Linked DNA regions of Homo sapiens. The protein of the gene in region 1 purifies or fractionates together with the protein of each later gene. This does not show direct contact. Each region holds a gene or a part of one and is shown on either strand. Other genes may lie near its edges. The genes, in order: PROS1, TMEM106A, HPN, CLGN and NOTCH2.

Evidence for each region.
Region 2: the proteins of PROS1 (region 1) and TMEM106A purify together in Homo sapiens (co-immunoprecipitation; one large-scale study listed by IntAct). This does not show direct contact.
Region 3: the proteins of PROS1 (region 1) and HPN purify together in Homo sapiens (co-immunoprecipitation; one large-scale study listed by IntAct). This does not show direct contact.
Region 4: the proteins of PROS1 (region 1) and CLGN purify together in Homo sapiens (co-immunoprecipitation; one large-scale study listed by IntAct). This does not show direct contact.
Region 5: the proteins of PROS1 (region 1) and NOTCH2 purify together in Homo sapiens (co-immunoprecipitation; one large-scale study listed by IntAct). This does not show direct contact.

What each region holds. Positions count from the first base shown.
Region 1 is NC_000003.12:93,881,946-93,888,162, reverse strand, and holds part of PROS1 (vitamin K-dependent protein S isoform 2 preproprotein), read left to right. Parts: intron 1-1,659; coding exon 1,660-1,827; intron 1,828-3,266; coding exon 3,267-3,435; intron 3,436-6,217. UniProt on the Homo sapiens protein: Anticoagulant plasma protein; it is a cofactor to activated protein C in the degradation of coagulation factors Va and VIIIa. It helps to prevent coagulation and stimulating fibrinolysis.
Region 2 is NC_000017.11:43,215,879-43,221,429, forward strand, and holds the end of TMEM106A (transmembrane protein 106A), read left to right. Parts: coding exon 1-63; intron 64-570; coding exon 571-711; intron 712-818; coding exon 819-862; intron 863-1,380; coding exon 1,381-1,434; intron 1,435-1,802; coding exon 1,803-1,923; 3' UTR 1,924-4,163; downstream 4,164-5,551. UniProt on the Homo sapiens protein: Activates macrophages and polarizes them into M1-like macrophages through the activation of the MAPK and NF-kappaB signaling pathway.
Region 3 is NC_000019.10:35,056,873-35,063,089, forward strand, and holds part of HPN (serine protease hepsin precursor), read left to right. Parts: intron 1-2,186; exon of another isoform or gene 2,187-2,800; coding exon 2,801-2,930; intron 2,931-3,001; coding exon 3,002-3,124; intron 3,125-3,256; coding exon 3,257-3,297; intron 3,298-3,474; coding exon 3,475-3,640; intron 3,641-3,754; coding exon 3,755-3,945; intron 3,946-6,217. UniProt on the Homo sapiens protein: Serine protease that cleaves extracellular substrates, and contributes to the proteolytic processing of growth factors, such as HGF and MST1/HGFL. Plays a role in cell growth and maintenance of cell morphology.
Region 4 is NC_000004.12:140,416,545-140,422,761, forward strand, and holds part of CLGN (calmegin precursor), read right to left. Parts: intron 1-6,217. UniProt on the Homo sapiens protein: Functions during spermatogenesis as a chaperone for a range of client proteins that are important for sperm adhesion onto the egg zona pellucida and for subsequent penetration of the zona pellucida.
Region 5 is NC_000001.11:119,921,668-119,927,884, reverse strand, and holds part of NOTCH2 (neurogenic locus notch homolog protein 2 isoform 1 preproprotein), read left to right. Parts: intron 1-1,273; coding exon 1,274-1,386; intron 1,387-2,074; coding exon 2,075-2,580; intron 2,581-3,900; coding exon 3,901-4,248; intron 4,249-5,106; coding exon 5,107-5,249; intron 5,250-5,438; coding exon 5,439-5,649; intron 5,650-6,075; coding exon 6,076-6,172; intron 6,173-6,217. UniProt on the Homo sapiens protein: Functions as a receptor for membrane-bound ligands Jagged-1 (JAG1), Jagged-2 (JAG2) and Delta-1 (DLL1) to regulate cell-fate determination.

The DNA.
Region 1 (6,217 bases):
GTTGTCAAGATTATTACATTCTTGAAAAATGTAATGAATGCTAAAATAGTGCAGCAAATATTTTGTGTCTATGTATGCACAAACTCAGATGATTGTAAGCATGAATATTCCCTACATGAATACCTAGCAGTGATGTTCAAAAGATTTTAAGAATACTTGATATTTTATTATTAGTTCTGCATTACTTATTATTATTAATTCTGCATGACTAGCCTATGTACATAATGCAGATTGTCTATCATCTTGCAGTGCCAGCATGGCCCCTACTCATTGTGACAAATAAAAGTGTTCCTCACCTCCAAATTTTCCAAATGCCCTGGAGTGGAGTCATAGTGTCTCACTTAAAATACTTGCATGGCTACAGGAAAAAGGTCTGGGGCCTGAGCTGTGGGGAGGGGAGGATCCAGCAAAGGAGACTGAGAAGTAGTGGTTAGAGTGTAGAAAGAGAAGCAATCAGGGTCAAGTGTTGTAGGCTAAGTTAAGAAAGTCTGTAAAGGAGAGAATAGTTGTTCACATGCTGCTAATTGGCTATATTAAAGAAGGAGTGTTGACCAACTTTAAATTTGTGTAACTAAATTTATTTTATGTTGGAGGATAGTTTTTCCCTTCCTATCATGGTGTTTTAATATGCTTATTGTTTGGCTTATATTATTGGTTAGTGAGTGAAGAGTTTGCTCTTTGAGTGCTATAGTTTTACTTGAAGTGATTGCAGCAGTGGTTCTTCAAATTGCCTTTGTAGAAGGAATTTTTATTGTTGTTTACCCTTACTTGAAACCTTTTTTAAAAACCCAAACAACTCTCAAAATTGGAAAACTCCAATTTAATTTTATGTATTTTTTTCTTATTGCCTCAATCACTTTTGAATTTTAAAGAAAAAATAATTTGTGTGCAATTAACAGAATAGTGAACATATTGATTTTTCTTACTTTATATTAAGAACTTATGGGCCGGGCGCGGTGGCTCACGCCTGTAATCCCAGCACTTTGGGAGGCCAAGGCGGGTGGATCATGAGGTCAGGAGATCGAGACCATCCTGGCTAACAAGGTGAAACCCCGTCTCTACTAAAAATACAAAAAATTAGCCGGGCGCAGTGGCGGGCGCCTGTAGTCCCAGCTACTCGGGAGGCTGAGGCAGGAGAATGGCGTGAACCCGGGAAGCGGAGCTTGCAGTGAGCCGAGATTGCGCCACTGCAGTCCGCAGTCTGGCCTGGGCGACAGAGCGAGACTCCGTCTCAAAAAAAAAAAAAAAAAAAGAACTTATTTACACTATTGATTCCATGTGCGTATTATCAGACAATTGCAAAATAAGGCCACTTAAATTTTTCCTAAGATAGAATGGCTCACTTAATTGTTAATTTTCTAGCAGCCTGGAATTGAAAGATATATAACTGGATGTTTAAGCTTAACAGAATAGTATTTTTTTTAACTTTAAAATATGGTATGCTTTTAATTTTTGATCGTGCTGCCACCCTAAATGCCTTTTTATCACATTTATCATAATTTGACATTCCAAATGAGTTGTAACAAATTAATAATTACATTAAAATGATTACTTTACAGAAGTATTTTATTGGAATAATAACATAAGTTTTAGATCCCAGTATTTCAAATGACATGTAGTAATACTTGGTTATTTGGTAATTTTTCTTTTTAATTGTAGGTGTCTGTGGAAGAATTAGAACATAGTATTAGCATTAAAATAGCTAAAGAAGCTGTGATGGATATAAATAAACCTGGACCCCTTTTTAAGCCGGAAAATGGATTGCTGGAAACCAAAGTATACTTTGCAGGATTCCCTCGGAAAGTGGAAAGTGAACTCATTAAACCGGTAATGATCCAAGCTTGTATCATTCATCATGGATGAGTTCCTTTTGTCTGTAATAGATTTGAATATGTGTGTTTCTGAGAATCAATAGAAGTTGTTTTGTTAAGCATACTAAGTGTGACAACTTGAAATGATCATGGAAAAATAACATTAGTAACCCTTGAAATTATATTAATGAAATAAAAAAATGACGTAGTGGTTTTGTGCCCATTTAAATCCCCAGCATAAATCATGAAGTGGATTTCTAAAATTCTCAAGTTAACACTTGAGAATGTTAACACTAATGTTAACATTAGTAATGTAATGTTCAGTGTTAACATCATGATAATCCATACTCAGTTGTTAAACATATAAATTCATATATTTAAGTCCAAAATTACACCATTTTGTAAAAGCCAGTCAAAGGACTTTCTCAAGTCTATTTTTAGGACTTAAATGCAAGAGCTAAAGAATAGCACATAAGGTGAAATTTATTGTTAAATATTTACTATCTTACATCCGTCTTTCATTCTCTGGAAATTCGTAGTTACTTTAACTTTTAAAAGATTTCCATTATATGATATTAAGCTTGAATTAATTAACCCATGTTGACATGAGTATACCTGTTGTTTGAAACTGAGAAATTAATACACTTTAAAAGTAAAATAAATTATTCAAAAAGTATCAATCATTTATGAAACGGTTATTACATGTCTTGAGCCTGGCAGGATACTTGATGGAGGCTAAAGAATGCAAACACTTTTGTGTCTGAAGAGACTTAGAGTCTGATTGGCAAGACAAACCCATATTATAAATGCCACTAAAGAAAAACAAGGCCAGGCGTGGTGGTTCACACCTGTAATCCCAGCAATTTGGGAGGCCGAGGCGGGTGGATCACCTGAGGTCAGGAGTTCAAGACCAGCCTGGCCAATGTAGCAAAACCCCATCTCTACTAAAAGTACAAAAATTAGCCAGGCGTGGTGGTGGGCACCTGTAATCCCAGCTACTCAGGAGGCTGAGGCAGGAGAATCGCTTGAACCAGGGAGGCAGAGGTTGCAGTGAGCCAAGATCCTGCCACTGCACTCCAGCAAGACTCCATCTCAATCAAACAAACAAAGAAGATAAACAAGACAACTTAGAGCCCAGGGCCACAGCTAGAAGCAAATATAGAACTTGAAAGCAGAAAAGTTACCACTGGATGATGTAGGAGAGGCAGGTGGGGCTTGAAGTGTTAAAAACCATTAAGATCCCACTGAGGGCTTGTGATAGTATGAGCTTGCTTGTACTGAAAAAGACTGTCCATCTGAAGAATACTTTGAAAAGAAAAACTTAAATAAAATTCAAAATATTTTCAACTATTATCAAAGAAAGGATTTTTTTTCTCTTAATGAAAACCTATACTCATAATCGAGCCACTGTTTAAGTTTAAAATGCACTCCTTGACTTGTATTTTAATTTGTTAGATTAACCCTCGTCTAGATGGATGTATACGAAGCTGGAATTTGATGAAGCAAGGAGCTTCTGGAATAAAGGAAATTATTCAAGAAAAACAAAATAAGCATTGCCTGGTTACTGTGGAGAAGGGCTCCTACTATCCTGGTTCTGGAATTGCTCAATTTCACATAGATTATAGTAAGTGATTTTCCATTTATCTCTATTTTCTCATTAATGAGTAAATTTATTCATTAACAAACAGTAATAATTTATTTGTGAAACATTATTGAGTATCTACTGTGTGCCCACTCTAGTCTTATGCTTATTCATACTATTATATACCTTTTACAAAAATTTTTCAGTGTATTGGGAAAAATATAAAGGCATTTGAATGTGCTTGTGTTGTTATTTCAGGTTTATCAGTACATAGCCTGATTCCTTATGGGTAAATTCAATTGACCTATTTTAAAGTTCACTGATTTCTCACTTGTATGGAGTCTATCAATGAATGCATCAGAAAGATTCATCTTCATTTCTAGCATTTCTATTTGATGCTTTCTTAAAATTTCTACCTCCCTGTTGAAATTCCCTATCTGTTCACACTTGTCTAGTTTATGTACTGAGTTTTCAATGTATTCATCATAATTATTTTAAATTCCCTGTCTCGTAGTTCCAACTGTGTCATATCTGAGTCTCGTCATTTTGTTTGCTTTGTCCCTTGACCAAGTGTTGTTTTTCTTGCATCTTTGTGTACCATGTAATTTTTGGTTTAGATTTGGGCATCTTACGTATAACAGTAGAGACTGAGATAAAGAATATTTGTGTCTGGAAATGAGCACATTTCTTTTGCTAGGCTCTTAGTAATGGGATTGAATCAATCTAGTGAAAAGTTGAGCTTCTTAAGTTTTGTTGGTGCCAGGATTACCCTTAATGCACCACAGGTTTCAGATCTTTTATTTTGTTTTGTTTTGTTTTTGAGATGGAGTCTCACTTTGTCACCCAGGCTGGGGTGCAGTGATGCAATCTTGGCTCACTGCAACCTCTGCCACCTGGATTCAAGTGATTCTTCTGCCTCAGCCTCCTGAGTAGCTAGAACTACAGGCGCCCGCCACCACGCCCGGCTAATTTTTGTATTTTTGTGTTTTTGGCCAGGCTGGTTTTGAACTGCTGATCTCATGATCCACCCCCTTGGCCTCCCAAAGTGCTGGGATTACAGGTGTGAGCCACCGCACCCAGCCTCAGATTTTCAAAATACTACCTTCTGCTTAGAATAAGGGAATGGTTTGGTAGCTAGTTTTTCTTTTTCTTTTCTTTCTTTTTTTCTTTTTTTTTGAGACTGAGTCTCACTCTGTCACCCAGGCTGGAGCTCAGTGCCACAATCTCGGCTCACCGCAACCTCCACCTTGCAGGTTCAAGTGATTCTCATGCCTCAGCCTCCTGAGTAGCTGGAATTACAAGGGTGCGCCACCATGCCCTGCTAATTTTTGTATTTTTGACGAGGTTTTGCCATGTTGGCCAGGCTGGTTTCAAACTCCTGACTTCAGGTGATCTGCTTGCCTTAGCCTCTCTAAGTGCTGGGATTACAGGCTTGAGCCACCGTGCCTGGCCTAGAGAGTTTTTCATCATAGCAGCTCAGTTTTATGTATTCCCTCCATAATACGCCTCAAGAAAATGTCTCTCCCACTTGTGTCTCTCAAGTGTCTTGCCCACCCCTAGCAGAGTGCTCTTGTTACCTGACATTTGCTAACATGGCAGAGAAGATGCGGAGGTTGGGGAAGCATTCTATGTTGTTGTCGTACAAATTCAGTCTTAGGCAGGTGTTGTATCCCTGGGTCTCAGGAGTGTGGAATTTTCACTGTTCCTCTTCCCTGACTCTCATCAGTAGGGGAGATGTCTAGTGATCAGGACTCAATATGTTTTCTTGCTCCTTCTGCATGATAGATAGCTTTTTTTGTTTGTTCTTCCTAATCTGTAGTTGCAATGAGTCTTCATATGTGTCCTAATGACAAGGTTTGCTGCCTTTCTCCTGGCTTGAAAACTTGTGTTGTGTAGAGGAGACCGAGAAGGATCTAGATGGGGCTTTGTGGCTTCCCTGTAGCTGGTGCTGCTTTCAGGACCATATTAAGAGAGAGGCTTTTTCGGATCTCCTTCCCTGCACTCTGTTTTCTCTTGAGTGCATGGTAAGGTCTGTGGAGAAGAGCCTGTGAATGAGCATGAATTGTCTTTGTGTCTGTAATTTCTAGGGCTTCTAAACTCTTACGTCAGCCCCTACATGGAGTTCAGCAATTTGTTTAAATCTTTACCTAAATTATTTTTACCAAATTGCATGGCATTTCCTGTCTGCCCTGGATTAGAAAGTGTTCTCATTCTGGCTTTCCTTGGAAACACCTGTCTTTCTTTAGGTTTCTGGTTAGTTTGTTGCTCTGCGACCTCAGCTCTTTGATAGTTTCAAGAAAAGTCATGATTATGCAGATAATTTGGCTTTTGTTGTTGTAAGGGTGGGAGTGGTGCCCTTTCCACTTTTCTACAGCCTAAGTGGAGCAGGGAATCTTGCCATACTGACCCTAGGTTTTTAACCTTAGAAGTAATACTTCTGTGAACATCCTAAATCATACATCCTTCTACCTTTATGTGATTAATTCTATGGAAGAAAATTTTAGAATTAGGTTATCTCTATCAAAGGTTATGCAAATATATAATTATTAGAGGTTCAATTACATTCTTTTCCAAAAATCTTTTATCAATTAATATTTCTACCAACAGAATGAGAAAGTGTATGCTTTAGTTTTTTTCCAATCTGATAGTTCAAAAATTAAATTTTGTAGGTTTGAATATTAATATTATTTCTCTAATTTCTACTGAACTTGAATATCCTCCCATATGTTTATTAGCTATTTATAAATTCTAATTATTTTATTGAATTCTTTGTCTTTTTCTTTTTTAGTAGTTCATTATTTGAGCTACTAACACTTTGCATTAT
Region 2 (5,551 bases), on another chromosome or scaffold:
CCTGCAGGCCTCAACTCCTCCACAGTGGCCTTTGATGAGGCTGATATCTACCTCAACATAACGGTGGGTGGGTGCCCTTGGCTCCAAACCCCCCTTCCTAGCAATACTTCGCTGTAACCTTTGTCCAGTGTTATGACCCTGGGCATGGGAAGCCAGAGATCTTATGGCACCCAGAGGGTGTTGGGAGCCTGAAGAGAAGTAGGAGCAACCATGAGCTCCATGACAGATGGTAAGGATTGGGACTCTACACAGTAAGGGGTCAGAATCCGGGCCAGATAAGTAAACCACAGGGGTGGAGTGGGGTGACAGTGCCTGAGACTCTCTGGATGGACAGGACTGAATGGAAAGAAGCTGTACAGGATGGACCTGGATCCTGAGGCAGCTTAACTTCGTAAAGTTGACCCCTCACCATTCAATGCCCCTCCAAGGGGCTCCCAGTTTTCATCCTCTGCACCTGAAGCTTGTCATGGTAGATGGGGCTCAGGCCAGACAGCCAGGCTTTTGCAACTGTTTGGCTTTTCCTAAGGATGGGCCATCTTCACTCCTCCCTTCCCTTGTCTTCATCCCCAGAATATCTTAAACATCTCCAATGGCAACTACTACCCCATTATGGTGACACAGCTGACCCTCGAGGTTCTGCACCTGTCCCTCGTGGTGGGGCAGGTTTCCAACAACCTTCTCCTACACATTGGCCCTTTGGCCAGTGAACAGGTGACTCCCCTCTCCCTGGCCAGCCCTGCCCACTGGTGTGTGGATGTGTGGTAGTGGGAAAGGGGCAGCTGGAGTTGGGGCTAACCCTGTGCCCATTTGGTTGACAGATGTTTTACGCAGTAGCTACCAAGATACGGGATGAAAACACATAGTGAGTACCCCTTGATCTCTTCTCCCCTAGCCACTTGCCTGGCTTAGGGACCCAATTAATACCCACCAGCTTTCCTGATTGCTTAGCAAATTCTTCAGCCAGCATCTGGCCTGCCCTCCCATGGCCGAGAATGTAATAAGCAAGGGTTCAGGGTCCCCAGCCTCTGCTTGTTTGGACCTTGATTAGAATGAAAAACAGGCTGGAATTTGGTTAATCTTTACAATATGTGACCTTGGGCTCTTCAGCCTGCATTGCTGAGGAAGAAGAATGTTTTGTCTGTCTCCTGAATGGGGGTCCAGCATGTGCCTGGGCCAAGTGAGTGGAGGTCAGAGTGATAGTGCAGCCATGCTGCTACACTCACCTGAAGGGTGGGAAGGGGTGGGAGTGACATTTTGGGGGCACCTGATGGAAGGAAAGAGTTCTGTGGGGTAAGGAAACTGGGACCTGCAGGCATCTTCTGAGCTGACAGGCTGCTCCATGTGACACGTGGTCCCACGTTCTCTTTTCTTCTCTCTCAGCAAAATCTGTACCTGGCTGGAAATCAAAGTCCACCATGTGCTTTTGCACATCCAGTAAGTAGAGCTTGGAGCTCTGGTATCCCTGCTCTCACTTCTGACTTCATTCTCACTCAGCTACACCTCATGGGCAGAGAGTCTTCCAAGCTGACCCCATGAATCTTTGTTGGCTCTTGGGAATAGCAAGTCTAGCCCCTTTTCTGAGTCTCACCTTGCCTATAAGTTATTAGGGGCAACAGGCATAGGGCTGTCTGGAAGCTGCTGGAAAACAGGTGGGGCAGCTGTCCCAGGTACCTTGGCAGAGTGGGGAGCCAGAGGGAAGGGCAAATGAGGGAGCTCCCCGCTCCCCACCCCCAGACAGTATAATGGGGCCAGAGCTTTCCTTTTCCTCCCAGCCATGGCAACAAGGCCTGCTTCCTCTCCAGGGGCACCCTGACCTGTTCATACCTGAGCCATTCAGAGCAGCTGGTCTTTCAGAGCTATGAATATGTGGACTGCCGAGGAAACGCATCTGTGCCCCACCAGCTGACCCCTCACCCACCATGACCTGTCTGCTGTCCCTGTACTCCAGGCACCTGCAACCCTGGTCTATATCTCCCACAACTCCCTGGTGACTAAGGAAGGACTACAGAGGCTTTGCCAAAGGAGAAGCCCTGCCTCATCACACCCTTACCTCCCACCCCCTCAGCACAGGAAGCTTGCTTTGAAGTTAACTTCATACACACACACTCATATCCTCCAGTTTCCCCCAGATTCTTTCAGGGGCTGCCATCAGATTCTGCCCTTGGTTAGTTTTTTGTTTTTTTTTTGGTAGAGACAGAGTCTCACTGTTGGTCCAGGTTGGTTTTGAACTCCTGGGCTCAAGCGATCCTCCCTTCTTGGCCTCCCAAAGCACTTGGATTACAGATGTGAGCCTGTGCCTGGCTGGTCTTTCTTGAGGAAAATCTGACCTGGCATTTTCTTGAGGCACCTTAGATTCCCTGGAGTGGCACCTGGCCTTTCTGTACTGAGCACCTGGTCAGTCTGAAGGGGGCATTTCACCCCAGCTCCATCAGGGCTGGCTGTCCCGTCTGAATGTGGAGAGAGCTGTAGTTTTATCTGGCTTTTAAAACATGGACCTGCCGGCTGGGCGCAGTGGCTTACACCTGTAATCCCAGTACTTTGGGAGGCCGAAGTGGGTGGATCACTTGAGGGCAGGAGTTCGTGACCAGCCTGGTCAACATGGTGAAACCTTGTCTCTACTAAAAATACAAAAATTAGCTGGGTGTGGTGGCATGCGCCTGTAATCCCAGCTACTCGGGAGGCTGAGGCAGCAGAATCACTTGAAACCGGAAGGCAGAGGTTGCAGTGAGCCAAGATCGTGCAACTGCACTCCAGCCTGGGCAAAAGAGCAAAACTTTGTCTCAAAAAAAGACTCTTTTCAAGTTTTCTACCCTCTGATAAGAAAATTTGGGGATATCCAGTGCCATCTCCAAGGACTTTCAGGGGATCATAGATGCTTTTCTGTGCCTATCTGCTTTGACCATGTGAAAAAGTGATAGTCTGCTTCTCTCTGGTAACTTGTCTGCCACCCATCTGATAGTAAGATTAGCCAAGGCCCTTTAGCCCTCTGTCCTTTCTGGTTATTGACTGTCCCTGGTTCCTAGGAAGACAGAGTTGTTCTCCAGCTAAAGCGTCTCCTCTCTATAAAGTAGTTTTACTATTCTTTTCATAGCAGGAGCCAAAATAGTAGAGGAGGGGAGAGAGGCACCTGGCACTCTGCGGGCCTGCACAGGAAAAACAGAGCCAAAGACAGAATCATTGTATAAGATATTTATTAAAGGAGAGCCTCTAAGTCCACATCCTGAGCCCATGTGAGTGGACACAGGTAGGTAAAACGGTGGGTCCAGCTGCTGTCATCTGAAAGCCTTCAGGAGATGAAGCTATCAGTATCCAGCTGAAGGCTGCTGGGTTCTGTTCCACCACCACCTTAGCACCAGGGCCCTCTCTGGTCCCAGAGGCCTCATCTCTCCTTGGGCTTTGACAATGTGGAGCAGCACATCAGCAGGGACTGGTCTAGACCCTCCCTTTCCTGTCACTTAGCTGGAGCTAAGCTCCAGATAACCCCTAGGTTCCCACTGGCTCCTAGTAGAAATAGTTTCTGTACTTTAGCAGAACAGGAAGGATATTTGTTCATTAAAGGTGGCTTGGTCTTACAGCTGGGTGCAGTGGTATATACCTGTAGTCCCAGCTACTCAGGAAGCTGAGGTGAGAGGATCTCTAGAGCCCAGGAATTCAAGTTTAACATGAGCAGCAACATTAGCAAGACCCCGTTTAAAAAAAAAAAAAGAGCTGGGCGTAATGGCGCACACCTGTAATCCCACCTACTCAGGAGGCTGAGGCAGGAGAATCACTTGAACCTGGGAGGCAGAGGTTGCAGTGAGCCAAGATCGCACCACTGCACTCCAGCCTGGGCAACAAGGGCGAGACTCTGTCTCAAAAAAAAAAAAAAAAAAAGATGGCTGTCTCTTTATCATTCAGACAGAACGATGAACACAGGTGAGCAGGGAAAGCTAATTTTGAAGTAGGATGCATGGAGAGGGAGAAGTGGTGACAGAACTTGGTAACTAGCTGGCTGGGGGAACGAGGGGAAGGAAGGAGACTGCTGTCTCCAAGCTGAGGTCAGGGTGGTGTTGGCAAGAGCGCAAAAGTCCAGGGAAGCCAGGCTGGAGCTGCTGTGTATAGACTGCCAAATGTGAAGTATTTATATTGTATTCAATAAACTATACTTAAGAGTGTTCAAAAAAGTCTCCTGGGAGTGGGAAGGGAGCTAGTGGATACTCCCTATTTCACAAACTTTTCTTTTTTTTTTTTTTTGAGACAGTTTCGCTCTGTTACCCAGGCTAGAGTGCAATGGCATGATCTTGGCACAGTGCAACCTCTGCCTCCTGTGTTCAAGTGATTCTCGTGCCTCAGACTCCCTGAGTAGTTGGGGTTACAGACATGCACCACCACACCAAATTAATTTTTGTATTTTTAGTAGAGACAGTGTTTTATCATGTTAGCCAGGCTGGTCTCAAACTCCTGGCCTCAAGCGATCTGCCCGCCTCGGCCTCCCAGAGTGCTGGGATTACAGGCATGAGCCACTGCACCTGGCAGAAACTGTTTCCTTAATGTTCTAACGGGCAGCAAGGTTTCTTCCCCAGGCCTCTGAGCCACTGATGACATATCCTGCCCTTCTGTTTTCCGTGAGATTGCTCACAGGACCTCACTCTCCCTCTTGCTCCCATTGTGTATCTCTAAAGTCTCTTCCAATTTTACTATTCCTGTTCTGTGCCACCACCATCCCGTTATCTTCCCCAGCTGCTCTCATCAGGAAATTTCGTGGGTTGCACTGAAACGGCCCCTTCAGACCAAAGGCAATGCTATGTAGGCTAAAATGAAATACGCAGCTGATGCCTCGGACGGGGCTTGTGATTGAGGTGACTGAGGCAGCCTTTCTCAGCATGGAGGAAGAAAGGCTTTCCCAGGGCTTGCACCTTCCTGAAGTCTAACACCCAGGGCCCCCAGCCCTACCCACTCCTTCACCTTGGGCTGGTGAACCTCTGGGTTGTCTCTGCTAGATGGAGAGGCTGAGAGCCAGGAAGGGAGAGGGCTGTGGGTTTTAGAAGGCAAGACTCCCTCCCCTTCCCAGGGTCAGGTGTCATGTTCCTGAGGCTATAGCCTCCGTTTCCTCCAAGCTCTTTCGCTCCATCCCTGCCTCCATTGTCCATTTGACAGCTGAGTGCCCACTGTAGGCCAGCCATTGCACTGGGCTTGGAGGTGGGGAGCATCACTGCCTGCCACCACTTTCTGCTGCTGCAGGCCTGCTCTGATGTGATGCGACCCCTCCTTCCCCAGGCTATATCTCAGTAAGCATGGGCTTGGGGGAATGGGTGATGGCTCCAGTGACAGTCATAAACTGAAGCCCCCCACAGACTTATCACTGCTGAATGAGGGCAGGTAGTGATAGTAGTAGGAGTTGCATACTTGGGGGGGACCCAAGACCCAGTTCTCCCATTGGCTTTGCCTAGAGAAGCATAAACTTGCCTTCCACTCTCTTTCCACCCTCTCCATCCCCTTCGTGAGTCCTCCTGCCCTCTTCCTCTCATCCCTGTCTCATAAAGCTGTCCGGTCCCGTGATTCTTCCCAGGAA
Region 3 (6,217 bases), on another chromosome or scaffold:
GCATAAAAGAGCATTATTGTTTTCTTTCTTTCTTTCCTTCTTTCCCTCTTCTTTTCTTTCTGACTATAGGATATTGATTATCAATCTGGCAATAGTCAAGATTGGCAGTCTGGTGTATTAGTCAAAGGTTTTCAGCCTACAAAAGACAAAAAGAAAAAATAAACTGGCTAAAAACAAAAGGGGATATGATTTACTAACTCACTTAACCGACAGTCACAGAGGTTCTTCAAACCTGGCTGTATCAAGGGGCTTTAAAATGTTATCAGATGGGGGCCAGGTGCAGTAGCTCACGCCTGTCATCCAGCACTTTGGGAGGCCAAGACAGGCAGATCACTTGAGGTCAGGAGTTCGAGACCAGCCTGGCCAACATGGTGAAACCCCGTGTCTACTAAAAATACAAAAAATTAGCCAAGTGTGGTGGCATGTGTCTGTAGCTCCAGCTACTCGGGAGGCTGAGGCAGGACAATGGCTTGAATCCGGGAGGCGGAGGTTACAGTGACCCAAGGTTGCACCAGTGCATTCCAGCCTGGGTGACAGAGCGAGACTCTGTCTCAAAAAAAAAAAAAAAGTTATCAGATGGGAAATGAATTCCGATATTAAAAATTGATATGTATTTATACTATATTATTAAAGTTATTTTTCATAAAACATAGAAGGGTAAGTTTAAGAAATGAGAAGTATTTATACCAAAATGATTAAATATTATTTAATTTAAAGATATAAATGTCTTGTTGGACAAATAATTCAAAATTTCCATTAGACAGGAAAAATAAGTTCAAGAGATATATTGAACAACATGGTGATTATAGTTAATAACAATATATTATATACTTGAACATTGCTAAAAGATATTTTAAGTGTTCTCACCACACACAAAGGGTAGTGCATGTGTTAATTAGCTTGATTTAGCCGTTCCACAACGTATACATATTTCACATCATCTTGTACACCATCAATGTATATAATTTTGTCAATTAAAATAAATACATATTTTAAGGCCGGGTGCAGTGGCTCACACCTATAATCGCAGCACTTTGGGAGGCCGAGGCAGGCAGATCACCTGAGGTCAGGAGTTTGAGACTAGCCTGGCCAACATGGTGAAACCCCATCTCTACTTAAAATACAAAAAAATTAGCTGGGCATGGTGGTGCATGTCTGTAATCCCAGCCACTCGGGAGGCTGAGGCAGAAGAATCGCTTGAACCCGGGAGGCAGAGGTTGCAGTGAGCTGAGATTGCACCACTGCACACCAGCCTGGACAACAGAGTGAGACTCCGTCTCAAAAAAATAAATAAATAAAAATAAAATAAATACATATATATTTTTGAGATGGAGTCTCACTCTGTCGCCCAAACTGGAGTGCAGTGGCACGATCTTGGCTCACTGCAACCTCTGCTGCCCAGGTTCAAGCAATTCTCCTGCCTCAGCCTCCCGAGTAGCTGGGATTACAGGCACCTGCCATCATGCCTGGCTAATTTTTGTAGTTTTCATAGAGACGAGGTTTCATCATCTTGGCCAGGCTGGTCTTGAACTCCTGACCTTGTGATCCACCCATCTCGGCCTCCCAAATAAATACATATTTTAAAAGATAGAAATCACTCTGGAAGGAGAGTTAATCTGTTTGATATAATAATAATAATATATTAATATTATATTATAACAATATATTAGTATTATATTCTAATAATATATTAATATTATATTATAATAATATATTATTATATTATAACAATATATTAATATTATATTATAACAATATATTAATATTATATTATGTAATAATAATACTACTCCATATAGCTATGGAAAAGTTCATATGAAGAAACCAGGCTATGATCTACAAACTGGCAACAAATTTGTTCTTCTATTTTCCATATGCTGTCTGTGTACGTATAAAGTGAGAGGTCTTTTTATATGAGTTAAGGGTGTGACCAAAGACAAATGGAAAAAGACAAATGACAAACATACTAATAAAGAGCTTCGGTTTCTCCACAAAAAATACAATAATAAAATAAAATGTTATCAGAAATCTCTTGACTCTCCTCCACGTTAGCTCACTTTTTCCCTCAAGAGGGTGAACATGACCCTTAACAGATCCAGCCTCAAGTGCTGGATTCTCTTGGGAACTTGGTTAAATGGTTTTTTTTCTTCCCGAATGTCCAAGTCACCTTCCAGACCTGCAGCTCCTGAGCAGCCAACTTAGGACTTCTAATGGAGAGTGAAGTTCCCCTGGTTCGCGGAGGGGCCGGCCACAGCCTCAAGGCTGCTGTTGATTGGTCCGACCTGAGTCCTTGAGTCTGGCAGAGTGCCATGGTGCTCTGTAATCCCACCTGTAATCCCAGCATTTTAGGAGGCAGAGGCAGGAAGATTGCTTGAGCCTAGGAGTTCAAGACCAGCCTGGGCAACATAGCAAGACCCGTCTCTACAAAACAAAACAAAACAAAACAAACAAACAAAAAAATTAGTCAGGTGTGGTGGTGCACGCCTGTGGTCCTAGCTACTCAGGAGGTTGAGGTAGGAGGATTTCTTGAGTCTGGGAGGTCAAGGCTACAGTGAGCCAAGATCACACCACTACACTCCAGCCTGGGCAACAGAGCGAGACCCTGTCTTTAAAAAAAAAAAGTCCTTGAGTCATGATTCCAGATGCAATCGCAGATGTGGGGGCTGCAACCCTCCGATGGGCTGGGGTTCACGTCTACACCACATGGCTGGAGCACAGGCCAGGAGGGGCTCCGGCTGGGGAAGCATGTGGGGAGCCTGGCTGTGGGACCCAGGCGGCCCCGGGCCCTGTCGCCCTGCAGTGCAGGTCAGCTCTGCGGACGCTCGGCTCATGGTCTTTGACAAGACGGAAGGGACGTGGCGGCTGCTGTGCTCCTCGCGCTCCAACGCCAGGGTAGCCGGACTCAGCTGCGAGGAGATGGGCTTCCTCAGGTACTGGGGGCCCTCGGAGGGGTGGGAGCCGGGAGGGGCTGGGGAGCAGGCCTAACCCCTGCCCCGCCCAGGGCACTGACCCACTCCGAGCTGGACGTGCGAACGGCGGGCGCCAATGGCACGTCGGGCTTCTTCTGTGTGGACGAGGGGAGGCTGCCCCACACCCAGAGGCTGCTGGAGGTCATCTCCGTGTGGTGAGGAGGGCAGCGGGCAGGTGGGGCAACACCTCAGACCCCCAAGGCACTCCCTCTCCCCGTTTTCCTTCCACCTGTCTTAACTGGTCTCTATTTCCTTTCTTTCTGTGTCTCCAATCCCATCTCTCCCAGTGATTGCCCCAGAGGCCGTTTCTTGGCCGCCATCTGCCAAGGTGAGATCCTAAAACTCAGAACCCTCTCCTTTAGGCCCTTGGGGAGGCCACGTCCCCTCAAGCTCCCCAGGATGGGGCCATGTACTTTCAGACCCCCTAGGGCAGGGCCAAGCCTGGGCTCTGGGGACCTGGGCTCCAGTCCCCTGTCGCCGCCCCCTGCTGACCCTTGTCCCACAGACTGTGGCCGCAGGAAGCTGCCCGTGGACCGCATCGTGGGAGGCCGGGACACCAGCTTGGGCCGGTGGCCGTGGCAAGTCAGCCTTCGCTATGATGGAGCACACCTCTGTGGGGGATCCCTGCTCTCCGGGGACTGGGTGCTGACAGCCGCCCACTGCTTCCCGGAGTGAGTGCCCCCCAATGGCGCTGATGATGGGGAGGCAGAGGAGCGGAGAGACAGTGGGGAGGAGGGCGGATTGTGCCCAGGCAGGTGGCCACCCTCCACCCCTTTCCCTGGTAGGCGGAACCGGGTCCTGTCCCGATGGCGAGTGTTTGCCGGTGCCGTGGCCCAGGCCTCTCCCCACGGTCTGCAGCTGGGGGTGCAGGCTGTGGTCTACCACGGGGGCTATCTTCCCTTTCGGGACCCCAACAGCGAGGAGAACAGCAACGATATTGCCCTGGTCCACCTCTCCAGTCCCCTGCCCCTCACAGGTAAGTCTAAGGGCTGAGCCATGGGGCTTGAGGACCCGAGGCCAGGAGGACAGAGGAGGGGACCAGGGGCACAAGGCAATCAACTTATGGCTCAGGCATCCTTGGCAATAAGGGGAATGATCTCGAGGGAGCACAAAGTGGGCCTTAACTATCAATGATCAGTGCAGCCAATTTGGAAAATTTGCCAGCATTTCCCCAAGAAGTATACATAAAGTTACCATTGGACCCAACACTTCCACTCCCAGGACAGGAGGTATATACCTAAGACAAATGGAAACTGTGTCTGCACCAAAACTCGTACATCAGTGTTCATAGCAGCATTATTCATAATAGCCCAAAGATGGAAACAGCCCAAGACTGTTTCATCGGACAAATGCATAAAGAAAATGTGGTATATTGACCGGGCGCGGTGGCTCATGCCTGTAATCCCAGCACTTTGGGAGGCCGAGGTGGGTGGATCACGAGGTCAGGAGTTTGAAACCAGCCTGGCCAACATGGTGAAACTCCATCTCTACTAAAAATACAAAAATTAGCCTGGCCAACATGGTGAAACTCCATCTCTACTAAAAATACAAAAATTAGCCTGGCCAACATGGTGAAACTCCATCTCTACTAAAAATACAAAAATTAGCCTGGCGTGGTGGCACACGCCTGTAATCCCAGCTACTCGGGAGGATGAGGCAGGAGAATCTCTTGAACCCGGGAGGTGGAGATTGCAGTGAGCCGAGATCACACCACTGCACTCCAGCCTGGCTGACAGAGCAAGGCTCTGTCATCTTGAAAATAAATAAATAAATAACAAAAAAAATGTGGTATATCCACACAACGGGAGAATATTGGACCATAGAAATGAATGAGGTACTGATTCATGCTACCACAAGGATGAAACTTGAGAACAGTGCTGAATGAGACAAGCCAGCCGCAAAGGCCACATACTGTAGGATGCCACTTGTATGAAATGTACAAGGCTGGGCACGGTGGCTCACGCCTGTAATCCTGGCACTCTGGGCAGCTGAGATGGGAGGATTGTTTGTGCTCAGGAGTTTAAGACCAGCCTGGGCAACATAGCAAGACCCCATCACTTAAAAAAATGAGCTAGGTGTGGTGACGGATACCTGTAGTTCCAGTTACTCAGGAGGCTAAGGCAGGAGGATCACTTGAGCCCAGGAGTTTGAGGCTGCAGTGGGCTAGGATTGTGCCACTGTACTCCAGCCTGGGTAACAGAGCAAAACCTTGTCTGTTAAAAAAAGAAGAAAGAAAGAAAGAGAAAGAAAAGAAAGGAAGGAAGGAAGAAAAGAAGAAAAGAAAAGGAAAGAAAGAAAAGAAATGTCTAGAATAGGCACATCGGTAGAGATAGAAAGTTGATTGATGGTGGCAGGGTGGGAGGTGGGGATGGGAGATTGGGAGGTGACTGGTGAAGGACACAAGGTTTCTTGTCTGGGTGATGAAAGATTCTAAGTCGATCATGATCATGGTTGCACTTGTCTGTGACTACACAAAAAGCCAGTGACTTGTGCCTTTAAAAGGAATTGTCTAATATGTGAATAGTAGTTCAATCAAGCTGTTACCAAAAAACTAATAAAATGAAAAGAAAATGTGTTAAAAATGAATGAATCAGACTTAGAAAGTAAGTTAGGAGTCATTCCCTCTGCAATTCCCTGGAGTATTCCCTTGGTCTTACTGAGACTCACTTAGGTGCCAACATGTCCTTAACACCTCTCCAACACATACATCTTCCTTTTGGATTAAAAGCAGGCCCTGGGCTTCAGATTTCAGCAGGCTGCAGTGTAATAATAATAATAAAAATAGGCTGGGCATGTAATCCCAGGCCAAGGTGGGGGTATCGCTTGAGCTCAGGAGTTCAAGACTCGCCTGGGCAACATGGCAAAACCCCATCTCTACAAACAAAAAAAATTAGCTGGCTGTGGTGGTGCGCGCCTGTGGTCCCAGCTACTTGGGAGGCGGAGGCAGGAGAATCACCTGATCACCCAGGAGATCAAGGCTGCAGTGAGCCATGATCACACCACTGCATTCCAGCCTGGTTGATAGAGCGAGACCCTGTCTCAGAACATAATAATAATAACGGTGATAATGATGATCATGAAGTAGTAATAGCGAGTAGTATTCGAGTTCATGATTGAGTATTCGAGTATAGCGAGTTCATGATCATGAAGTAGTAAAAGGGAATAAGGGAGTACATGATGAGTGTACACAACACAGTAAAATAATCTGGTAAACATAGCAGTGTGCCAGGCACCATTCCAAATATGTC
Region 4 (6,217 bases), on another chromosome or scaffold:
ACTACCATCAGAGAATACTACAAACACCTCTACACAAATAAACTAGAAAATCTAGAAGAAATGGATACATTCCTCGACACATACACTCTCCCAAGACTAAACCAGGAAGAAGTTGAATCTCTGAATAGAGCAATAACAGGATCTGAAATTGTGGCAATAATCAATAGCTTACCAACCAAAAAGAGTCCAGGACCAGATGGATTCACAGCTGAATTCTACGAGAGGTACAAGGAGGAACTGCTACCATTCCTTCTGAAACTATTCCAATCAATAGAAAAAGAGGGAATCCTCCCTAACTCATTTTATGAGGCCAGCATCATTCTGATACCAAAGCCAGGCAGAGACACAACAAAAAAAGAGAATTTTAGACCAATATCCTTGATGAACATTGATGCAAAAATCCTCAATAAAATACTGCCAAACTGAATCCAGCAGCACATCAAAAAGCTTATCCACCATGATGAAGTGGGCTTCATCCCTGGGATGCAAGGCTGGTTCAATATACGCAAATCAATAAATGTAATCCAGCATATAAACAGAGCCAAAGACAAAAACCACATGATTATCTCAATAGATGCAGAAAAAGCCTTTGACAAAATTCAACAACCCTTCATGCTAAAAACTCTCAATAAATTAGGTATTGATGGGACATATCTCAAAATAATAAGAGCTATCTATGACAAACCCACAGCCAATATCATACTGAATGGGCAAAAACTGGAAGCATTCCCTTTGAAAACTGGCACAAGACAGGGATGCCCTCTCTCACCACTCCTATTCAACATAGTGTTGGAAGTTCTGGCCAGGGCAATTAGGCAGGAGAAGGAAATAAATGGTATTCAATTAGGAAAAGAGGAAGTCAAATTGTCCCTGTTTGCAGACGACATGATTGTATATCTAGAAAACCCCATTGTCTCAGCCCAAAATCTCCTTAAGCTGATAAGCAACTTCAGCAAAGTCTCAGGATACAAAATCAATGTACAAAAATCACAAGCATTCTTATACACCAGCAACAGACAAACAGAGAGCCAAATCATGAGTGAACTCCCATTCACAATTGCTTCAAAGAGAATAAAATACCTAGGAATCCAACTTACAAGGGATGTGAAGGACCTCTTCAAGGAGAACTACAAACCACTCCTCAATGAAATAAAAGAGGACACAAACAAATGGAAGAACATTCCATGCTCATGGGTAGGAAGAATCAATATCGTGAAAATGGCCATACTGCCCAAGGTAATTTACAGATTCAATGCCATCCCCATCAAGCTACCAATGCCTTTCTTCACAGAATTGGAAAAAACTACTTTAAAGTTCATATGGAACCAAAAAAGAGCCCGCATCGCCAAGTCAATCCTAAGCCAAAAGAATAAAGCTGGAGGCATCACACTACCTGACTTCAAACTATACTACAAGGCTACAGTAACCAAAACAGCATGGTACTGGTACCAAAACAGAGATATGGATCAATGGAACAAAACAGAGCCCTCAGAAATAACGCCGCATATCTACAACTATCTGATCTTTGACAAACCTGAGAAAAACAAGCAATGGGGAAAGGATTCCCTATTTAATAAATGGTGCTGGGAAAACTGGCTAGCCATATGTAGAAAGCTGAAACTGGATCCCTTCCTTACACCTTACACAAAAATTAATTCAAGATGGATTAAAGGCTTAAACGTTAGACCTAAAACCATAAAAACCCTAGAAGAAAACCTAGGCATTACCATTCAGGACATAGGCATGGGCAAGGACTTCATGTCTAAAACACCAAAAGCAATGGCAACAAAAGCCAAAATTGACAAATGGGATCTAATTAAACTAAAGAGCTTCTGCACAGCAAAAGAAACTACCATCAGAGTGAACAAGCAACCTACAAAATGGGAGAAAATTTTCACAACCTACTCATCTGACAAAGGGCTAATATCCAGAATCTACAATGAACTCAAACAAATTTACAAGAAAAAAACAAACAACCCCATCAAAAAGTGGGCGAAGGACATGAACAGACACTTCTCAAAAGAAGATATTTATGCAGCCAAAAAACACATGAAAAAATGCTCATCATCACTGGCCATCAGAGAAATGCAAATCAAAACCACAATGAGATACCATCTTACACCAGTTAGAATGGCAATCATTAAAAAGTCAGGAAACAACAGGTGCTGGAGAGGATGTGGAGAAATAGGAACACTTTTACACTGTTGGTGGGACTGTAAACTAGTTCAACCATTGTGGAAGTCAGTGTGGCGATTCCTCAGGGATCTAGAACTGGAAATACCATTTGACCCAGCCATCCCATTACTGGGTATATACCCAAAGGACTCTAAATCATGCTGCTATAAAGACTCATGCACACGTATGTTTATTGCGGCATTATTCACAATAGCAAAGACTTGGAACCAACCCAAATGTCCAACAATGATAGAATGGATTAAGAAAATATGGCACATATACACCATGGAATACTATGCAGCCATAAAAAATGATGAGTTCATGTCCTTTGTAGGGACATGGATGAAATTGGAAAACATCATTCTCAGTAAACTATTGCAAGAACAAAAAACCAAACACCGCATATTCTCACTCATAGGTGGGAATTGAACAATGAGATCACATGGACACAGGAAGGGGAATATCACACTCTGGGGACTGTTGTGGGGTGGGGGAACGGGGGAGGGATAGCATTGGGAGTTATACCTAATGCTAGATAACGAGTTAGTGGGTGCAGTGCACCAGTATGGCACATGTATACATATGTAACTAACCTGCACAATGTGCACATGTACCCTAAAACTTAAAGTATAATAAAAAAAAAATCTAAAGATAAAGATGATAGTAGTTATCAAACACAAATAATATGTAGACCTCTTTAAAAGTATCATGATTCCTAAATGTTCACTGAAATTGTTTTTATTATAATGTTGCTTAAGTGTATATAAACATAAAAATGGAAATTTTATAATTATAAAACCAAAATACATTTATATATAAATGCTGAGAAAAGATACAAAAATTTTTTTATCACAAATTTAATGTGGTAGAGTTTTACTAAAATCAAAGCACATTCAAAAGATCAAACAAATATAGGGCTTATTGTAATCAGGTAGACTGCTATGGAGAAAGTTCTTTTGCATATATAATTCCTATAATTCCACAATTACATAATTACTTATATATTTATGGACAAAGACAAAAATGATGGGTGCTGTCATTAACTAGGATTTGATCTCTCTAAATCACAAAAGAGGTATAACTGGGATAGGAAGTAAATGTAAAGGGATCAATTTGACACAATGAAATAGGCTTATTTCCTTAATTTCCTAGTTATTGGCACAGAAATTTGTATATCTGCAAATTGCTTATTAATTGTGAACTCTAAAAGCTTCATTGTTCTAAAAGCCTAAGGGCCTTCCATGTTACATAGTAAAAGGCACTTTGCTTGACTGGCTATTAATCATTTTTGAGCAAAATAAAAACACATAAAATAATACTACTAATAATGAACATTAATATAACTTTAGACCCATATCCTCTCTTTCAAATGAATGTACACTTTAGGTTCCAAACAATTAATTTGTTGAAAAAAAAACATTCTAAGTGCTTTGTTTGAACTCTGGTGTACTGGGCTGCCAAGAAAGAGTTAAGAGGAAGCCAAGCAGGTAGTGCTCTATCTGGAACTCTACCCTTAACTCAACCAGAGCACCCCAGTTTTATTTGTATTCTATATTATAGTTTTTCCTGACTTTTCCTTAGAAATAGTTGCCAATGCTTCAGAAAACAGTTCAGAAAACACTTTATCTTGAAAGTTTGTTTCTTCTTTAAAATTCTATGATCTTATATTTACATCAAAGAACTAGCTAATTTAATCTTTACAGCCCAGGACATGAATAGCGTAGGTACTATTCCTAATCAACAAAACAAAAACAGAGAGTTTTAAAGAACTGCAATTGGTTAGAAGGCATTCTGTAGACAATGCAGTTCTATTGTTTTTATTTGTTCTTTTTTTTAAAAAAAAAAATCAGAAATACAGACTTAATACTTTCTGCGTAATGCTGCAGTATCCTATCATTCTTCAGTGCTGCACCAGCTGACAATTGAGAATTAGATACTGAAGTTCACAGTCTTGAAATCTGTCTCACAATGGTGCCAACATGTTATTAAGTTCCAAACAAAACTATGAGGTTTGTGACATCTCATTTCTTAGAGAGAGGTATGCTATTGACAAGTCTGTACTGAAACTCTGAGAGGTCAGATGCTGGGGTAATACTACAAGAAAATGAAGTAGTTAATTTATGCATTTAAAATTGTTTTAAATCACGTGGTAAAACATTCTCATTGTTGTACAACTAATTTCCAAAACTTTCTTCATGCTCTAAAACTAAAACGCTATACACTTTTAACAACTCCCCACTACCCTTCCCTCCAGCCCCTGGAAACCATCTTTCTAATATCTATCTCTATGATTTTGACTACTCTAGGTACTGCATATAAGTGGAATCATACAGTATTGGTCTTTCTGTAACTGGCTTATTTTACTTAGCATAATGCCCTGAAGCTTCATCCATGTTGTAGCATGTATCAAATTTCCTTCCTTTTTAAAGCTGGACAGTATTCCATTGTGTGTATACACCACATTTTGTTTATACATTCATCTGTCAGTGGACACTTGGGTTGCTTCCACCTGTTGGCTGTTGTGAATAATCCTACAATGAATATGGGTATACAAATAACTCTTCGAGACCTTGTTTTCAATTCTTTTGAGTATATACCCATAAGTTGAATTGCTTGGTCATATGATAATTCTATTTTTTTTTGAATCCTCATACTGTTTTCCACAGTGGCTTTACCATTTTACCTTCCCACCAACAAGGCACAAGGGTTCCAATTTCTACACATCCTTGCCAACATTTGTTCAAAATTATGTTTTTTTAAATAGTAGTCATTGTAATAGGTCCTAATATGGCGTAGTATCATATTGTGGTTTGATTTGCATTTCCCTGATGATTAGTGATACTGAGTATCTTTTCATGTGCTTGTTGGCTATTTATACATCTTCAAGGGAAACATGTCTATTCAAGTCCTTTGCCTATTTAAAAAATCAGGTTTTGTTTTTGTTTTGAGTTGTAGGAGTTCCTACAAATTCTGGATACTGACCCCTTATCAAATATATGATTGGCAAATATTTTCTCCCATTGCATAGGTTTTTCATTTTGTTGTGTTCTTTGATGCACAGAACTTTTTAATTTTGAGTTTTCCAATTTATATATTTTTTCTTTTGTTGTCTGTGCTTTTGGTGTCATATAAAAATTACTGGCAAATTCAATGTCATGAAGCTTTCCATGTTTTCTTTTAACAGTTTTATAGTTTTCTTATGTTTAAGTCTTCAATCCATTTCGAGTTAATTTTTGTCTATGATTTAAGGTAAGGTTACAACCTCATTCTTTTGCATGTGGATAGCCAGTTTCCCCAATATCATCTCATGAGAAGACTGTCCTTTCTCACAAAATGGTCTTGGCACTTTTATAAAAAAAATTTGAACATATATGTGGGAATTTATTACTAGGCTCTTTATTGTATCCCATTGATATATATGTCTGTCTTTATGCCAGTCTCACACTGATTTGATTACTATAGCTTTGTAATAAGTTTTGAAACAGAGATGTGAGATTTCCAAACTTATTCTTTCCCAAGATTGTTCTGGCTATTTGGGGTCCCTTGAGATTCTATATGAATTTTACTATTCTTGCAAAAAGTGCTATTAGGATTATGACAGGGATTGCACTGAATCTGTAGATTACTTTGGGTTGTGTTTCCATCTTATTAAGTCTTCCAATCCCAATGAACACAATGTCTTTCCATTGATTAATATTTGTTTCTTAATTTCTTTCAGCAGCATTTCATAATTTTTCATGTACAAGTATTTTACTTCCTTGATTTATTCCTAAGTATTTTATTCTTTTTTATGTTGTTATAAATGGAATTGTTTTCTTAATTTCCTGTTCATTGTTAGTATACAGAAGTGCAACTAATTTTTGTGTGCTAGTTTTTTTACCCTGCAACTTTAGTGAATTCATTTGTTTGTTTTTTGAGATGGGATCTCACTCTGTTACCCAGGCTGGAGTGCAGTGGCACCATCATGGCCCATTGCAGCCTTGAACTCCTGGACTCAGGTGATCCTCCACTTCAGCCTCTCGAGTAGCTGGGACTACAGGCA
Region 5 (6,217 bases), on another chromosome or scaffold:
GGAATTTTGTAAAGAATGGGAGGGATTCTGCAATATGGAAGCTCCCTGGATACACTAACATCAAAAAAGAAATAGTCCATTGTGAACATAATAGCTATTGAGGCAATGTGGAACAGAATAAGTATGAATAATCTGTCTACAGCCTCGTATTGGCCAAACTGCACTTTGAAAGCCAAAGCATCAAAACTGGCTCCTGTTTCTTTCATTGCCCCTGAGGCTTTTTTCTCTGGAAACACAAGCATTTGCAAAGTAAGGGGGAAGCAGGAGAAGGAAGGAATGGAGACCACTTTGAAGTAGTATCCCACAGCCAGGAAGTAGTGTTTGTGCATTTTCCACATTTGTGAATGAAAAAAAAAAAATCCCTTGAATACATTGAGCACAGTTATTGTGGGATGCTGTTGCAGAGATAAACAGCAAGGGACTGGTGGTCCACCAAGCTGTGTCCATGTGGTGGCTGCTCTTGGTTAGCGGCTGCTGCTGTGATTTGAAGAGACAAACATTTATACCTCTTGCTGCTTGATCTCGTTGGCCAAAAACATTACTATTTTTATTTCATTTTTAAAGCTACCTCTTCTTTCCCAAGTGACCACCGGCCAAATGGGGCCTATCTCCTGCTGTTGGCCAGGAGTCCCAGCTGTGCCCTGCGTCTCCTCTGTGGTTCCAGTTGCCTCGTTCTTTATCTTGGAGCAGTGGCCCCCAGGGGCCTTCCGTTTTAGAACTATTCCTAGAGGAAACTAACTCTAGGAAAATTAAGCTGTGTTTTAAGGAATACGAGTTAGGTTACAGAAAGGCCAAAAAGTGATTGAAATGAGGTATCACAGATGAAAATTCTCTATACCGCAAATCACCATTTAAATGTATTGGCCTGGTGTAGCCTCTCCTATGAAGTAGATAACATTAACAAAATGCAGTGAATAGTTTTTCAACTGTTTTTTTGCAACTTATGAAAGCTAAAATGACTTCAAAAAGCTGAAGTGTGATTTCTCTTTTTTTGATGGGATTTAAGTCACTTTTCTCACCCACCCTGTTGTGTGAGTTGGTACTTACTGTGTAGGCAAGACAGAGTAAGGGACTGGCCTGAGCTGGTGACAGGCCAATCATGTTGAGATGCAGTGAGTGTTTTCTTTCTATGCTCAGATTACCACAGGCCTAGAACTGAACTCTCTCACACTTGCTTCACCTATGGCTAGTTCCCATCCCAGCAAAGTTTGTTGAGTAACTTGCAGTGACTACTTCTGCCTTTTAAAACCTTTTTTATTTTTTATTTTCTGAGGCCGGCACTGTGAAACCTTCGTCGATGTGTGTCCCCAGATGCCCTGCCTGAATGGAGGGACTTGTGCTGTGGCCAGTAACATGCCTGATGGTTTCATTTGCCGTTGTCCCCCGGTAAGTGCCCTGTTGCTCATCTAAGAAGGGGCATTGTCTCTTCCATACAATCTGTGAACAGAACTGAGATTAAACCTGGTTTTACCAATCTTCGAAATGGGAAGATTTCTCAATTTTAGCTCTTTCAGAGGAAAGTGCTTGGGTTTTTCCATTTAAAGCTGTTTACAAGTGACAAAACAAAACAAAAACAAATAAAAGCTGTTTAGACACTCCCAGAAACAGTGAGCTTCCCAATCCATGACTGTCAGTCTTAAGAAAAACTAAGGGAAAACCACAAAAAGTGGTGGAGTGCCCCCTTGAAAATAGGGCTGATGTGTGGGGCTTCTTGGCCCCAGGCTGGAGGGTAATCTCACTGCCCAGATTGGGCCAGAGTTGGTGGAAATGCTGCTCTTACATTCTTTAGCAGGAACCATTTGGAAGCAAGTTGTCTCTTAAAGTAGAGGGAAGCTCAATTTTAGCTATTTGCTATACCCATTCTTTTATCACTGCCAGAGGTTGAAACCTTCCCAAAACAAGAGATCCCTATGCCTCGGGAGATACCAAAAGGAAACCTGTCTAGTAACCTTGGCTTGGGCTGAACGGGAAGTACAGAAGGGAGTGAGATGTGGAGGTTTTCTAGAAACCTCAAACTTCCAATATGACTGTTTTCCTACCAATGCCATTTTTATTTCCTCACTGATTTCCACAGGGATTTTCCGGGGCAAGGTGCCAGAGCAGCTGTGGACAAGTGAAATGTAGGAAGGGGGAGCAGTGTGTGCACACCGCCTCTGGACCCCGCTGCTTCTGCCCCAGTCCCCGGGACTGCGAGTCAGGCTGTGCCAGTAGCCCCTGCCAGCACGGGGGCAGCTGCCACCCTCAGCGCCAGCCTCCTTATTACTCCTGCCAGTGTGCCCCACCATTCTCGGGTAGCCGCTGTGAACTCTACACGGCACCCCCCAGCACCCCTCCTGCCACCTGTCTGAGCCAGTATTGTGCCGACAAAGCTCGGGATGGCGTCTGTGATGAGGCCTGCAACAGCCATGCCTGCCAGTGGGATGGGGGTGACTGTTCTCTCACCATGGAGAACCCCTGGGCCAACTGCTCCTCCCCACTTCCCTGCTGGGATTATATCAACAACCAGTGTGATGAGCTGTGCAACACGGTCGAGTGCCTGTTTGACAACTTTGAATGCCAGGGGAACAGCAAGACATGCAAGTAAGGGCTTCACGTTTTCCAGAACTGAAGGGGACTGTCACTAACACACTTCAGTTTCTCGTTCTTGCTCCTAACCACTCCAGTGCTTCAGCCTAAGCTGCCTCTGCTTTTCAGATGGTGCCAGCCTTGTCCCATCGCACACTGCCCTGTGCTCTCCCTTGCTGACAATGGGCCAGGAATGCTCATTGCATAATGACCCTCTCTCTCTGCCTATCTTTGCCTTCTCACCTGCTGCCTTCGTGACCTCCTGGGGGATATAACTTTTGGAAGTGGTGTTTCCCACTTCAAGCAGCCTCTCACATAACCTGCCTGCAGGATGGATGGAAAGGTCTGTATCTCTCTCTTCACCCCATTCCTTTCCCTAAGACTGTTTTTCCCCATCTAGATTTATCAGGAAGCATGAATTAGATTAAGTCTGTGAACCCTCCCGGTCTTAATTGTATAGGATGCTCTATGGTTTACTTAGGAACTTTCCTATTAACTAGCCATTCCATATAATTTAATCCCAATTAATTCTCAGCAACTCACGAGGCATAGGTATTACTAACATTCTTTCATAGGTGAGAGAACTTAGGCCCAAGGGTTAAAGAACTTGCCAAAGCAAGTTGTTTCTTTGACTCCTAATCTTCTGATTGAGCTAGCATGAAAAGTTGTACCAAATAGTATAAATATCAAGGGGTAGGGGATGAGGAGAGGAGAGTATAGATGGAATAGTTTGTACATCATTTAGGTTTGGGGGTTCTAATTCCTTTTCCAAATATTGAAAGAGCCTGTACAAGTAATATCTGGTGTGCTATAAGGACATACCCATCTGCCTTTACCTTCTGTAGTTGGGATTCACTCTTGAAAGGGAAAGAAATGGGTCATGTTAATATTGTTCTCTGTATGGCAACTCTCAATGGTTCAGGGCCTTGTATCAAGTTTCTAGAGGCATCTTTCACTTCCTAAAGCCCGTTGTTACCTTACTGGGGGCAATGGATTTCTCTAAAGTAGAGGAAGCATGAACCAGGTTGACTTTTGTTTCAGATATGCAGCTTTGTTTGAAAACCTGACTTAACAGGCTTGTAAACTGCCTGGGAGCCCCTAAGCTCCTGCAGCATAGTGAGTACAATGTTCTTCATTTAGGAAGTACTCAACAAGGATGAGTGGCATAGGCATCAGGGATAGGAGATGCAAAGAAGGTTTTGTGGGGCATTTGGGTCCTGGGTGTGGGCCACAGAAAATGGGTAGGAAAATCCACAGTAGTTCCAAATGAAAAAGCAAATAGAGCTCCAGTCTAATCTGAGCTCTTTTGCCTGTTCTCTGCTTCCCCTTACCTAGGTATGACAAATACTGTGCAGACCACTTCAAAGACAACCACTGTGACCAGGGGTGCAACAGTGAGGAGTGTGGTTGGGATGGGCTGGACTGTGCTGCTGACCAACCTGAGAACCTGGCAGAAGGTACCCTGGTTATTGTGGTATTGATGCCACCTGAACAACTGCTCCAGGATGCTCGCAGCTTCTTGCGGGCACTGGGTACCCTGCTCCACACCAACCTGCGCATTAAGCGGGACTCCCAGGGGGAACTCATGGTGTACCCCTATTATGGTGAGAAGTCAGCTGCTATGAAGAAACAGAGGATGACACGCAGATCCCTTCCTGGTGAACAAGAACAGGAGGTGGCTGGGTAGGTGTTTGGTTTCTGAACTTCAAGGCTAATTTTATGAAGCCTAGCACTTTGACATATAGCACAAGTCATAACTCAACCTATAGAAATGCAAAGATCAGAAAAATAGAATGGCCCACCACTTAAGATAAACCCGTTACCCCAGTACTTACGTTTAAATGTAAAGATATGCCTTCGTCTTGGCTGAAAAGTGGGCAGGGGTACACAGGAGGCAGAATGTCTGGAAGGCCTCCTCAGATGCCAGAATCCATAACCTTTTGCCAGAGTTGCCTCAAATCCCTTTATTAGTGACATTCCTTTTTACATTAATCATTGCCTTATTGTTAAGGCCCTTCTTTAGAATATATGTCTCTTTGACACAGGTAATGATCTTCAGTTGCTCTGTCATTCACACCTCACTCTTTGTTGGTATATTGTCAAACTTTCAACCCTCCAGCTAGCTGAGATACCAATGCAGAGACAAAGGAAAATAAGGACTAAAAACACACAGGGATGTATGTTTAGAGTAGCACCAAGTACCACTGAGTAGGTATGAAAGAGTGGAAGAAGACCACTGAAACCTTCGGGAGGAAAGCACAGCTTCTCACTTTGTCATGCATTGCCTCAGCCAGAAGGCTTTGGTCAGCCAGACTAAGGAAGGTGGGACATCCTCTATGTGGGAATTAGTGTTTAAGATCTCAAGGGACAGTATTCTAATTCCTGAGATATGTCTTAAGGCAGCATCCCAGAGGTGGGGACCTGATGCTGAAGGGGAGGAAGGGAGGCTCCTGTCACCCTTTATGACATGTTCTGCCTGACCTGCACTCTTCTGTTTTACCCCCATCTCTCCTCCTCCGCTTCTCCCTTGGCATCCCACAGCTCTAAAGTCTTTCTGGAAATTGACAACCGCCAGTGTGTTCAAGACTCAGACCACTGCTTCAAGAACACGGATGCAGCAGCAGCTCTCCTGGCCTCTCACGCCATACAGGGGACCCTGTCATACCCTCTTGTGTCTGTCGTCAGTGAGTGGCACTGGTGTAAAGGGGAAAGGTGGCGGGGGAAGAGTGTCAATTGGGGGAACAATTTTCATTATGTAGCCCTCTATTTTTTCAGGACTGTTGAGGTCAAAGTTGCCCTCTAAATGAATCTAATGCTGACATTGAGAGGTTAATGTTTTATTCAGCACTTTCCCTGTCTCTGTGGACTTTCAGGTGAATCCCTGACTCCAGAACGCACTCAGCTCCTCTATCTCCTTGCTGTTGCTGTTGTCATCATTCTGTTTATTATTCTGCTGGGGGTAATCATGGCAAAACGAAAGCGTAAGCATGGCTCTCTCTGGCTGCCTGAAGGTTTCACTCTTCGCCGAGATGCAAGCAATCACAAGCGTCGTGAGCCAGTGGGACAGGATGCTGTGGGGCTGAAGTAAGAGGCATTGCCAATAAGCCACTATTCACAGTATAAGTAGGGATGACTAGAAAAGCATATCTTGTTGAATCATGATTTTAAATTCTAAGCTCTGGGCATTTACTCACATTGACCATGATTCTAAATGCCTTGTGAGTGACTGAAACCACAGTCAGAGCGTGGGTGCATCTATTCTGTGTATATTATCACAATGCCGCCCAGCTTCTGTGTTGAGGTGCCCTTTTGTTGTAAGCTCACGATCAATGGGAAGGGAAAGGATGAATGCCAAGGGAATGTCACCAAAAATACTGCCCATCTTCTCTGGGCCAAGACCCTGCAAAATTGTAATATAGCCACGGGAGTGTGTCATGGTGGAAAGTGTTGAAAACCACTGTATTAGTTTATGACTGCCATTCTTATTTTTTCTTTTTATAATCATATTAGAAATCTCTCAGTGCAAGTCTCAGAAGCTAACCTAATTGGTACTGGAACAAGTGAACACTGGGTCGATGATGAAGGGCCCCAGCCAAAGAAAGTAAAGGTGAGGTGGCCATGGTAGAACCACCATTGTCAGCCATTATCTGGT